3 linked regions of the Homo sapiens genome follow. The protein of the gene in region 2 binds, or shares a complex with, the protein of the main gene of each other region. Each region holds a gene or a part of one and is shown on either strand. Other genes may lie near its edges.

Region 1 (3,651 bases), on a different chromosome or scaffold from region 2:
TGGTGTGAGTGTGTGATCAAGATGTAGACATTAGAGAGACAACAGAACTGAATGCAGTAAAGTATAAAAACTCACTCCTCACTCTTTCACTCCATACAGGGATTATTCTCCATTATTCTCTGGCGAAGGCAGTCTCTTTCCATGCCTAACTAAAAATCTTTTCAACTGGTCAATATGATAATTGTTTAATCCAATATGACCTTGTAGACCATACAGCCACAGAAGAGAGGAAACTACCGAAAGAACTGTAAGAACAGAGGAAAACTATAGTAATCAATAGAACTCACGGTTCTTGGACCTGGAGTAAATCACAACTTTTCTAAACCTCAATCTCCCCATCAATAATGCTGGGGGCAGGGGATGGTGATTAGCAGACAGAGCAGAGAGAAATGACAGTGATCTTTGCCCTGCTGACAGCATGGATTTATTTTGAGGCTTACAGGGAGACAGGTCAAAGCGCTCTGTTTATTCTACATGTCTACGTAGTAAATTATCATCTTTTAGCATTAGAGGGGATGTTAGAAGACAGCTAGTTCAACCTTTCACTCTACATAGAAGCCAACATGAGCAATGTACAGAAAGTAGTATTTTATTTTGCACATATTCTGGAAAGAACACACAAACTGATTGCTTCCAATAAATTCAAGCCTCTAAAACCAATGAACATAAATCCTAATGAGAACAGAACATTAAGAAACTGGAATTGAATTTAATAATCCACATATTCACCACACTTCACTGAGTTGCTCTTAGGCTAGTCACTATGTTAGGCACTAAAGATACATTAAAAGAAAAAAAAAAAAAGATATGATCCCTCCCTCCAGAAGCTCACACTTCACTTGTCTATCTGTCTATCACTTATAAAGTACTTATTAGATGCCAGATACTCTTCTAAGCACTTTACAAATATTGGCAATCTAATAGGGACAGACGTACTTAGGCCATTAGTTAGACCTCAAGGCACTAAACATCTAGCAAAAGTCTGAACAAGAGTGACTGCGGCAGGAGTTATTAGTTCTGATTTGGGAAGAGGTGAAGCATTGTGAAGTGGATAGGTGTGAAGACCAGACAGAAGAGTGGTGTTTATGCTGCATCTTCAAGAATAAAGAGGCATTTGCCAGGGACTGAACAGGAGTTGGGGTAAGAAGGAAAGAGCATTTCAGATAGAGGGACCAACAAGAGCAAAGGCTGAAAGCATCAGAATCGACAGGATGGTCACAAAGCTGCCTGTAAATTCATGATCTAGCATGGCTGGTGAGTAGAAGTTGGGAATACAAAGCAGCCTGGTCTTACATATAATACGGACTCACTGATATTTTTTAGTACCCTAGAGATACAAGTAGGTAATTATATGAAAAAACAATACTGGTACAATATACAATTTGTATACATGTGTTTATGTGTATATGTGTATTTTTCAAAGTTGTTTGCCTACATTTATTCCATCTTTTAATCTATCATCTATAACCACTTTGAATTTGAATGATAAAAAATTAAAATACCTTTTTTGTTCTTTTCATTATGCTTTTCAGCAAGATTAGACAAAGACCTGGAGATAACAATAAACAAATCAATTTATTTAGAAGTCATGTATTTGGAAAGATAAATTCTGAATTCTTCTGAGAGAAAAGTGTAGAACAGTATTTGAAATTGATACCATGTTTTAATGGAGAAGCAATCACTGAAACAGAGGAGGAGACACTATAAATACTGTCACTCTTTGTTGGCATCTGGGAGGGGTGACATATTAAGATTCCTTTACTTTCTAAAATAATCTTTGAGAACACATATTGCCAGGAGCCTAAAGGGATATAGATAGAGATTTATGAAGATACTTTAAAACTAGGAAATCAGTGGAGCAATGAGGAACATTGCTACCTAAAGAATAACAGGTATAAAACATGATCAAACAACTGACAACCAGCTGAGTCAAAGTACTGTGTAAGAAATAATTGTGACTACTAGTCAATGTTCTGTAACAATTGAGAGTCTCCATTTTTTGAGATAACATATAATTAGGTAAATACAGTACAAATTTTTTCTTTAGCTCTTTTTTTAAAGTGTCTTCATGACATTTAAAGCTTTCTTAAAAAACTAAGATCAGCACCATAAAATGTTACTTGTCATAAAATTGACGTACACTTACCACTCGAAACTGTCATCCAATAGAAAGAGCAGTTTCAATACCACCACAATGATAGCTACAGCTTGTACATCGTACTTAACAGTTTTTGCCATTTTAGCTATAGGATCAAATGTCAGAAAATCCACTTCTCCCATTCCAGTCATTTTTACCACGTGGCAAGTTAAGCTATGCATTTCATCTGAAGAACAAAACAGTAAAATGTAAATTATTTGCCAACTAGACCATCCCCAATGTATATATCCATAAAATAACCTTTATCTTAAAACACGACACTATGCAAGAACTCAGAGACCCACATTTTGTGAATAAAACATCAAAACATGGCATCCATATAGAAAAATGAATGGTAGAATCTTAAAACGGCGTATCATTCCCTATTCCGACTTCCTAAAACATCTACTATTTCTAGGACACATCCTGGCATCTGGCAGCCACATACCAGTTGTTTCATCCACATCTCTTGTCTGTGTTTCTATAGCAGTGTTTGCTCACCTAAAACTAACTCCCTTATGAGACCAAAAGCTTCTCTAGCAATGTATGTGCACTGGCTGGCATCCTGGCTAGCACACTGGAAGCCCTCAACAACTGTTTAACTAGATATATTGCTTTCCTAAAGAAATTATATGTTCAGCATAGACTACACCTATTACTCAAGACTGAATAATGTGGGACTTGGAACCAGAAAACCTAGGACCTATATTTAAGCTTTCCAATCACTAGCTTTGTGACTCTTGGATCAGAGTCACTTAGCCTCAGTTTCTTCACTTGTAAAATGGGTTATAATGAGAATAAATTGAGGTTATGTTCAAGTGAATAGACTTTGAAAACTAAACAAAAAATTTCTGTACTTCCCAATCTAAGTATGTAAGCTGTGACCACACAATTTCAAGTATGACAGCCATTTTTTATAAGAGATAATGAGCTTGCATGGAACTGAACTGAATCTTCTACATGCATTCAGTCACCATGTCCTGTTAATTCCATTCTCTCAATGTGGCATATAGTACCATGGTTGAGAATAGACTATGGAACCAAACTGCCTGGACTAGAGTCCCTGCTCCATCACTTACTAGCTCTGTGACCGTGGACATGTTATACAACCTTTCTGTGCCTCAGTTTTTAAACAATCTATCTAAAATAGGAATAAGAATAGTACCTGCTTCATAGCTGTTGTGAAGACTAAATTAATGAATATACCTAAGGCACTTGGATCAGTGCTGACTGCTTTCCAATCCATCCCCTTTCTTCCCGTCACTGTTGCTCCTTAGGCCACCCTTATAACTGCTCTCCCTTTCTCTAGTCTTACTCTCCTGTGGCCCAATCATCGTATTCCCCTGCTCTCATGAACTCACTAAAGCTTTTAGCTCCCAGCCTAATCTCCATAGTTCCCCCAAACAAGCCATATTCTCACTTGCCTCTCTGCTTTGCACAGCTACTTTTGCCCCTTTGCCTAGAAAGCCAGTTTCTTTCCCCCATTCCTCATCTCAGGCTCTGCCTGGCTGAAG
Region 2 (3,651 bases):
CTTCCTTTCACTGAAGATGTCTCTGTAGCATATGATACTATTTGACAGCATTTTACCCACACTAGAACTTATTTCAAAATTGGAGTCAATCCTCTCAAACCCTGCTGCTGCTTTATCAACTAAGTTTATGTAATATTCTAAAGTCATCAGTTCTTCACCAGGAGTCAATTCTATCTCAAGAAACCACTTTCTTTGCTTACTCACAAGAAGCAACTCCTCATCTGTTCAGGTTTTATCAAAAAATTGCAGCAATTCAGTCACATCTTCAGGTTCACTTCTAATTCTAGTTCACTTGCTATTTCCACTACACCTGCAGTAACTTCCAGCACTGAAGTCTAGAACCTCTCAAAGTCATCCACGAGGGTTGGAATCAACCTCTTCCAAACTCTTATTCATGTTGATATTTCACCCTCCTCCCATGAATCATGAACATTCTTAATGGCATCTAGAATGGTGAATCTTTTTCAGAAGGTTTTCAATTCACTTTGCCCAGATTCATCAGAGGAATCACTATCTATGGCAGCTACAGCATATGTCCCTCCCTGCTTCCTTTCTTTGAGACAGGGTCTCCATTGTAGCCTTTAACTTCTGGACTCAAGTGACCCTCCCGCCTCAGCCTCCCAAGTAGCTGGGACTACAGGCACATGCCACCATGACCAGCTAATTAAAAAAAAATTTTTTTTTGTAGCAACAGGGACTTGTTTTGTTACCCAGGTTGGTCTTGAGCTCCTAGCTTTGAGTGATCCTTCCACCTTGGCCTCCCAAAGTACTGAGATTACAAGCATGAGCCACCATGCCCTGCTGTATTTCTTAAATAGTAAGAATTGAAAGTTGAAATTACTCCTTGATCCATGGGCTGAAGAATGGATATATTATTTAAGCAGGCATGAAAACAATATTAATCTCCTTGTTCTTCTCCATCAGAGCTTGTGGACAACTAGTTACACTGTCAGTGAGTAATATTTTGAAATTAAACTTTTTTTCTGAGCAGATCTCAAAGAGCTTAAAATATCCAGTAAATCATGCTGTAAACAGACGTGCTCTCATCAGGTTTTGTTGTTCTGTTTACTGAGGACAGGCAGAGTAGATTTAGCGTAATTCTTAAGGCTCTATGGTTTTAGAGCAGAACATGAGCATTGGCTTCAATTTAAACTCACCAGCTCTATTAGCCCCTAACTAGTCAGCCAGTCCTCTGAAGCTTTGAGGCTAGGCACTGATTTCTCCTCTCTAGCTATAAAAGTCCTAGATAGCATCTTCTTCCAGTAGAAGGCTGTTTCATCTACATTAAAAATCTATTATTTAGTATAGTCACCTTCATCAATTATCTCAGCTAGATCTTCCAGATAACTTGCTGCTTCATGTTGCATTTTTATGTTGTGGAGAAGGCCTCTCTCCTTAAAGCTCTGAATAAACCTCTGCTAGTTTCAAAACTTTCTTCTACAGCTTCCTCTCCGCTCTCAGCCTTTACAGAATTGAAGAGAGTTAAGGCCTTGCTCTGTATTACACTTTGGCTTAAGGGGATGTGTGGGTGGTATGATCTTCTATCCAGACCATTCAAACTTTCTCCATATAAGCAATAAGGCTGTTTTGCTTTCTTATCACTTGTGGGTTTACTGGAGTAGCACTTCTAATTTCCTTTAAGAACTTTTCCCTTGCATTCACAACTTGGCTAACTATTTGGTGCAAGAGGCCTAGCTTTTAGCCTGTCTCAGCTTTCAACATGCCTTCTTCACTAAGTATAATCATTTATAGCTTTTGGTTTCAAATGAGAGATGTGCAGCTCTTCCCTTCATCTGAACACTTAATTAAAAGTCACTGTAAGGTTATTAATTAGCCTAATTTCCATATTGTTGTGTCTCAAGGAATAGGGAAGACCAAGCAGAGGGAGAGAGATGGGGGAATGGTTGGTCACGCTGCAGACATTTATCAATTAAGTTCCTGTATTATACAGGTGCAGTTTATGGCATTCAATAATAATTACAATAGTAACATCAAAGATCACTGATCACAATAACAGATAATAATGAAAAGGTTTGACTAGGCACAGTGGCTCATGCCTGTAATCCCAACACTTTGGGAGGCCAAGGCGGATGGATCACTTGCAGCCAGTAGTTTGACACCAGCATGGTGAAACTCCGTCTCCACTAAAAATACAAAATTTAGCTGGGTGTGGTGGCGCATGCCTGTAATCCCAGCTACTTGGGAGGCTGAGGCAGGAGAATCGCTTGAACACGGGAGATGGAGTTTGCAGTGAGCCAAGACTGCACCACTGCACTCCAGCCTGGGCAACAGAGTGACTGAAAAAAAAAATTAAAAAAAAAATACAAAAAAAAAGAAAAAAAAAAGTTTGATAACAATAACGGATAATAATGAAAAAGTTTGAAATCCTGCAAAAATTACCAAAATCTAACCCCAAGACATGAAGTGAGTACACACTTTTGGAAAAATAATGCCAACAGACTTGCTGGGTACAGGTTTACCACAACCTTCAATTTGTCAAACATGCAGTAAAGTGAAGTGCAGTAAAGTGAGGTGGGCCTGTGTATGAGTGGCTGACAAGCACTTGCCAAGGTGCTCAGAAACATTAGTAATCAGGCAAATAAAAATCAAAACCACAATAAGATACTACTAAGCAATCACTAGAGTGAAAGTAAAAAGACTGACAGCAGAAAGTGTTGGTGAGGATGTGGAGCAACTTAAATCTCTTATGCTGCAAAACAATACAGCCACTTCAAAAAACAGTTTGGCAGTTTCTTATAAAGTTATACATATACCAATATAGGACCTAGCAATCCTACTCCTAAGTATTTACCCATGAGAAGTAAAAACAGTGCATTCAAAGTCTACACAAATGTTTACAGTGCTTTTATTCGCAATAGCTCCAAACTGGAAAGACCCCAAATGTGAGCAACTGGAGAATGGATGAACTGTGGAACATCCAAACAATGGAGTGATACTTAGCTATACAATGGATTAACTACTGATATACAAACAGTACACTGGGCTAAGAAGTCAGACATACACAAAAAAGCATACACTCTGATTCCATCTATATGAAATTCTAGAATAGACAAAACTAATCTTCAGCATTGAAAAGCAGATGCAGTAGTTACCTGGGGCCAGCAGAGTGACTATAAAGGGGAAGAAGGGACTTTTTAAGGTAACTGAAATGTTCTGTAATTTATACATTATATATAATTATCAAAACAGACACTTAAAATGAGTTTTTTTGTATGTATATTTCAACAAAAGTTATTGATTTTTTTTTTTTTTTTTTTTTTTTTGAGACAGAGTCTCGCTCTGTCTCCCAGGCTGGAGTGCAGTGGCACGACCTCTGCTCACTGCAACCTCCACCTCCCGGGTTCAAGCAATTCTCCTTGCCTCAGCCTCCCGAGTAGCTGGGATTACAGGCACCCGCCACAACACCTGGCTAATTTTTGTATATTTTGTAGAGATGAGGTTTCACCACGTTGGCCAGGCTGGTCTCGAACTCCTGACCTCAGGTGATCCGCCCACCTTGGCCTCCCAAAGTGCTGGGATTACAGGCGTGAGCCACTGCACCCAGGCTGAAAAATTTTTAAAGTAGATGGGTGGTTGAGAGCTTGAAATGTAAAAGGGGAAAAATAAAACTAGAAAATAATTTGGTGAGGG
Region 3 (3,651 bases), on a different chromosome or scaffold from region 2:
AATACAAAAATTAGTTGGGCACGGTGGTGTGCGCCTGTAATCCCAGCTACTTGGGAGGCGAAGGCACAAGAATCGCTTGAACCCACGAGGCGGAGGCTGCAGTGAGCCAAGACTGCGCCACTGAACTCCAGCCTGGGCAACAGAGTGAGACCCTACCTCAAAAAGAAATCTTTCCAAAATCTAGTCCTATAAGAAATCCAAAACACGTTCGTAAGGAACATGGAGGCACTTGGGACCCACCGCCCTCTGCCTCGGTGTGGGGAGGAGGCTCCCAGCCAGCAGAGAGTGGGGGCCAACAACATAAAGACGCTCTCCTCGGCAAACAGCCTGTTACCTTGTAAGAAAAGTTCTTCTGCTGAGCTGTTTCTGATATTTTCTCTACAAGATTCTGTAGCCTTTGTTGCGTGGCATGTGATACATAACTTACTACATCTGGATGTAATTCCGTTATACCATGTTTTTTACCTAAAGGTCAGGCAAGAAAAACAGTATTTTAAAATCATTAAGCACAGTTCTTTCTTTACGGCTAATCTCTGATCCAGCAGTTACTGCTTTTATACAACCCAAGGGGAGCCCAGAAAGGCTGGTGGGGTGGAAGGCAGTGGTACCCATATTTTACCCAAGAACCACCACCAGCAACCATGTGGAAATCACAAACTCAGACAAAACACATGACCAGGTGTCAGGTGTGCTCACCTGAAGCTCCCATGCCCCAGCAGCGCAGCTGTTTAATAAGAACTCAGTCATTAAACACCAACGTACCTATTTCTAATATTCTTCTCTGCAAAGGCGCTTGGAGGAGGAAGGTTTCATCTTTACAGGACCGCGTTAGCGTGCCCACCAATTCAGAGTTCGTGGCTAATATTCTTGCACTTTCTTCTGACAAGTTTACTCCAGCCATCGATGCAACATCATTAATGTCATCATCGTCCCTTGAGGAAAGAAGGGAAGATCACTTTAACTGTACAAGGAATTCATCGGGAGGTGGGCTGGGGTGGTAAGGGCAGGAAACCCCACGTGGAAGGCAGGGCCGTGAGGAGGCCAGGCCTCTGTCCTCCCCGCACCTGCACCTGCTGCATCTGCCACAGCAGAGAGGGTGCCTCGCTGCTTTCCTGGAAAGCTCGATTGTTCTGCGGAAGGAGAGCTGTGAGTTGGCGCCGGGTTAACATCTACACACAGATGCGCAGGGGACTCAAGTCCAGAGAAAGCAAAGCCGGGAGCAGCGCGGGGACTTGTGGGGGTCTGATCTATGCAAAGCTTTTTAAAGCCAGAGGCAGCATTAAATTCTTTTTAAAGGCTCAGAAGTTGGAAGAAGAGTACGCACAATTTTTTCCTGAATCACCTGAAAGTTGCTAACCTGACTTTCCTCCACCCGGAACATTCTGCACGTGTTTCCTACAGACAAGGGCATCCCCTCCAGAAGCAGGATGCCATTGAGACCGGGCCATGATGAATGGCCCCTCCCCAGGCCCTCCCCCGTAGGACCCGGTCCCAGCAGCGCCTCTCCCTGCAGGACAGTCTGCATCCCAATCCCAGCTGCCACGTCTTGTCCGGCTCCTCAAGCTGGAAGGTTCCTCAGCCTCTCCTGACTCCTGGGCTGCCCCTGACACCTGGAAGGCACAGGCCAGCTGTGTGCAGGACGTCCTCTTCCAGGCTGACTTCGGCCCCCTCGTGAGGAGATGTGAGCTAAGAGTCCTGCCGGGAATTCCACATGCACGCAGCCTCCACTTGCCGCCTCCAGCAGTGGGCTTTGAACGTGAGGCCGGGGGCCTGCCTGGCGTCTCCTGGGGTCGTTGTGTCTCGGGGAAGAGCTCTACAGCAGTTCTCATGCCCAGTCCTCCTATGGGCTCCAGGTGCTCACTCAGGGTCTTGGCATCCCTGGTGGTCACGGGCTGTGGCTGGGCTGCACAGCTTAGGGCTCCAGCTGAAGGACCCGGCCATGGGAGGGAGGCTGCTCTGCTGACATCCACGTCCACGTCATGCCCATGTCCACTGCTCTCTGACACAGGACGGTCTCCGCTCATCTTGTATTTCCTTATCCCAGTCCCGCAATCAGCCTTTTCTCTCAGGAGTCCTTGTCATTTTAGTGGAAAACGGTTTTTAGAAGACAACATCTGAACACTAGGTGTGCTCAGTGTTACTGGGGCGTTACTGTTCCCAGGACCCTGCGGTGAACAAAGCTAGAAACTTACGGCAAGACCCATGGTTATCCATGCCTGCCGACACACTGAAACCCAGGGGTTTGCGTCAGCATTCCAATCCTGAGCCAGCCCACAGGGGTCACTCTCCTTTATCCCTTCTGCCAGGCCGCTGACTCCTTGACAGCAAAATACCAAGGCTTCCTGCAGCCTTGATTAATTCTTTCACCCGTGTATGTCCCTAAGTGCCCTCCCTTCTCACTGAAGTATCAGCGTCACGCTGGGCCCAGGCATGCTGGCCACCTCTCCCTGCTTGGGCTGGGACTCTGGCTCAGGCCACAGCCACTCCCCAGGCCTGCTATGCCCTGCCTGATGCCTTTAGGGATGAAGTGTCTGGGAAAGGGAAAATTCACAGTAAGACTTCCTGAAATACACACAACTCCACCGCCCCTTGATCACAACAGAGATCACTCCAAGACTCTCCCACTGCTCAGGTCCCATAAGCACCTCCCTGACTGAGGTGATGCTCAGACCACCTGCTTTCCAGGAGGCCCAGGCAAAGCACAGCAGTTATTTTTCTAGAAACAGGGCCTCACTCTGTCACCGACGCTGGCGTACACTGCTAAAACCATAGCTCACTGTAACACTGAACTCCTGGGCAGAAGTGATCCTCCTGCCTCAGCCTCCCAAGTAGCTAGGCCCACAGGCACACACCACCAAGCCTGGCTAATTTTTTATTTTTTGTTGTTGTTGAGTAAGGTTTTACTATGTTGTGCAGGCTGGTCTCAAACTCCCGGGCTCAAGCGATTCTCCCACTTCAGCCTCCTGTAGTGCTGGCACTGTAAGCGTGAGCCACTACGCCTGGAGCAGTACAGCATTTCTGAGGGTTCTGAAGTTGAATACATGGAAAGTGAAGCATTCTATACTAGGAATGCAATGAACTCAAAATACGATGTTATACTAAAAAATGAATTTCCTATTAGTTCATATAAAAATAATCAGTTGATTCGCTTTCTGGCTATGTGTATGAAGCAAAACCTCTTTGAGCCAACTGTATGGGAAAACACACTTGTGTGAACGTGAGGTCAAAGTGAGCGTGAAGCAGGAGCCTTGGAGCCCCGGCCGCCAGGGCCACGTGGGAAAGACCCGTGGGCGGGAATGGAGCAGCACGGACTCTGGACTCTTCTCCGCTCTGGCCACGCTTCTCCAACGTACACAGGCCCATTCCTTACCGAAACGAACCTCCCCCAGGCTCCTTGAGTTTATTTTTCTGTGCAGCAGCTGCTTGTGCCGAGACAGCAGAAAGGGCTTTGGTTCCAGGTAACACGGCGGGTTTCACCACAGGGACTACAAAACAAACACACAGTGGAAACCACACAAGGCTTTTATTAGATCAACTATGTGCTTTGGTGCTTTACAGGCTCAAGGGCACAGCTACCACTCTCCTAATTAGCTACAAGAAAGTTTCCAAAAACTTCATATTAATAACTCTAAATTACAGTACAAAGTGTAA

What was found.
Region 1: TBP (region 2) and TAF1B share a complex: the UniProt entries of both Homo sapiens proteins name them as parts of the transcription factor SL1/TIF-IB complex.
Region 3: TBP (region 2) and TAF4 share a complex: the UniProt entries of both Homo sapiens proteins name them as parts of the TFIID basal transcription factor complex.

Annotation. Positions count from the first base shown.
Region 1 is NC_000002.12:9,909,409-9,913,059, reverse strand, and holds part of TAF1B (TATA box-binding protein-associated factor RNA polymerase I subunit B), read right to left. Parts: intron 2,325-3,651; coding exon 2,147-2,324; intron 1,550-2,146; coding exon 1,503-1,549; intron 1-1,502. UniProt on the Homo sapiens protein: Component of RNA polymerase I core factor complex that acts as a GTF2B/TFIIB-like factor and plays a key role in multiple steps during transcription initiation such as pre-initiation complex (PIC) assembly and postpolymerase recruitment events in polymerase I (Pol I) transcription.
Region 2 is NC_000006.12:170,557,369-170,561,019, reverse strand, and holds part of TBP (TATA-box-binding protein), read right to left. Parts: intron 1-3,651. UniProt on the Homo sapiens protein: The TFIID basal transcription factor complex plays a major role in the initiation of RNA polymerase II (Pol II)-dependent transcription.
Region 3 is NC_000020.11:61,999,790-62,003,440, forward strand, and holds part of TAF4 (transcription initiation factor TFIID subunit 4), read right to left. Parts: intron 3,486-3,651; coding exon 3,371-3,485; intron 2,840-3,370; exon of another isoform or gene 2,025-2,839; coding exon of another isoform or gene 1,358-2,024; intron 1,131-1,357; coding exon of another isoform or gene 958-1,130; exon of another isoform or gene 939-957; intron 933-938; coding exon 763-932; intron 466-762; coding exon 335-465; intron 1-334. Other genes in the region: uncharacterized protein LOC105372704, read right to left, coding at 958-1,130, 1,358-2,024. UniProt on the Homo sapiens protein: The TFIID basal transcription factor complex plays a major role in the initiation of RNA polymerase II (Pol II)-dependent transcription.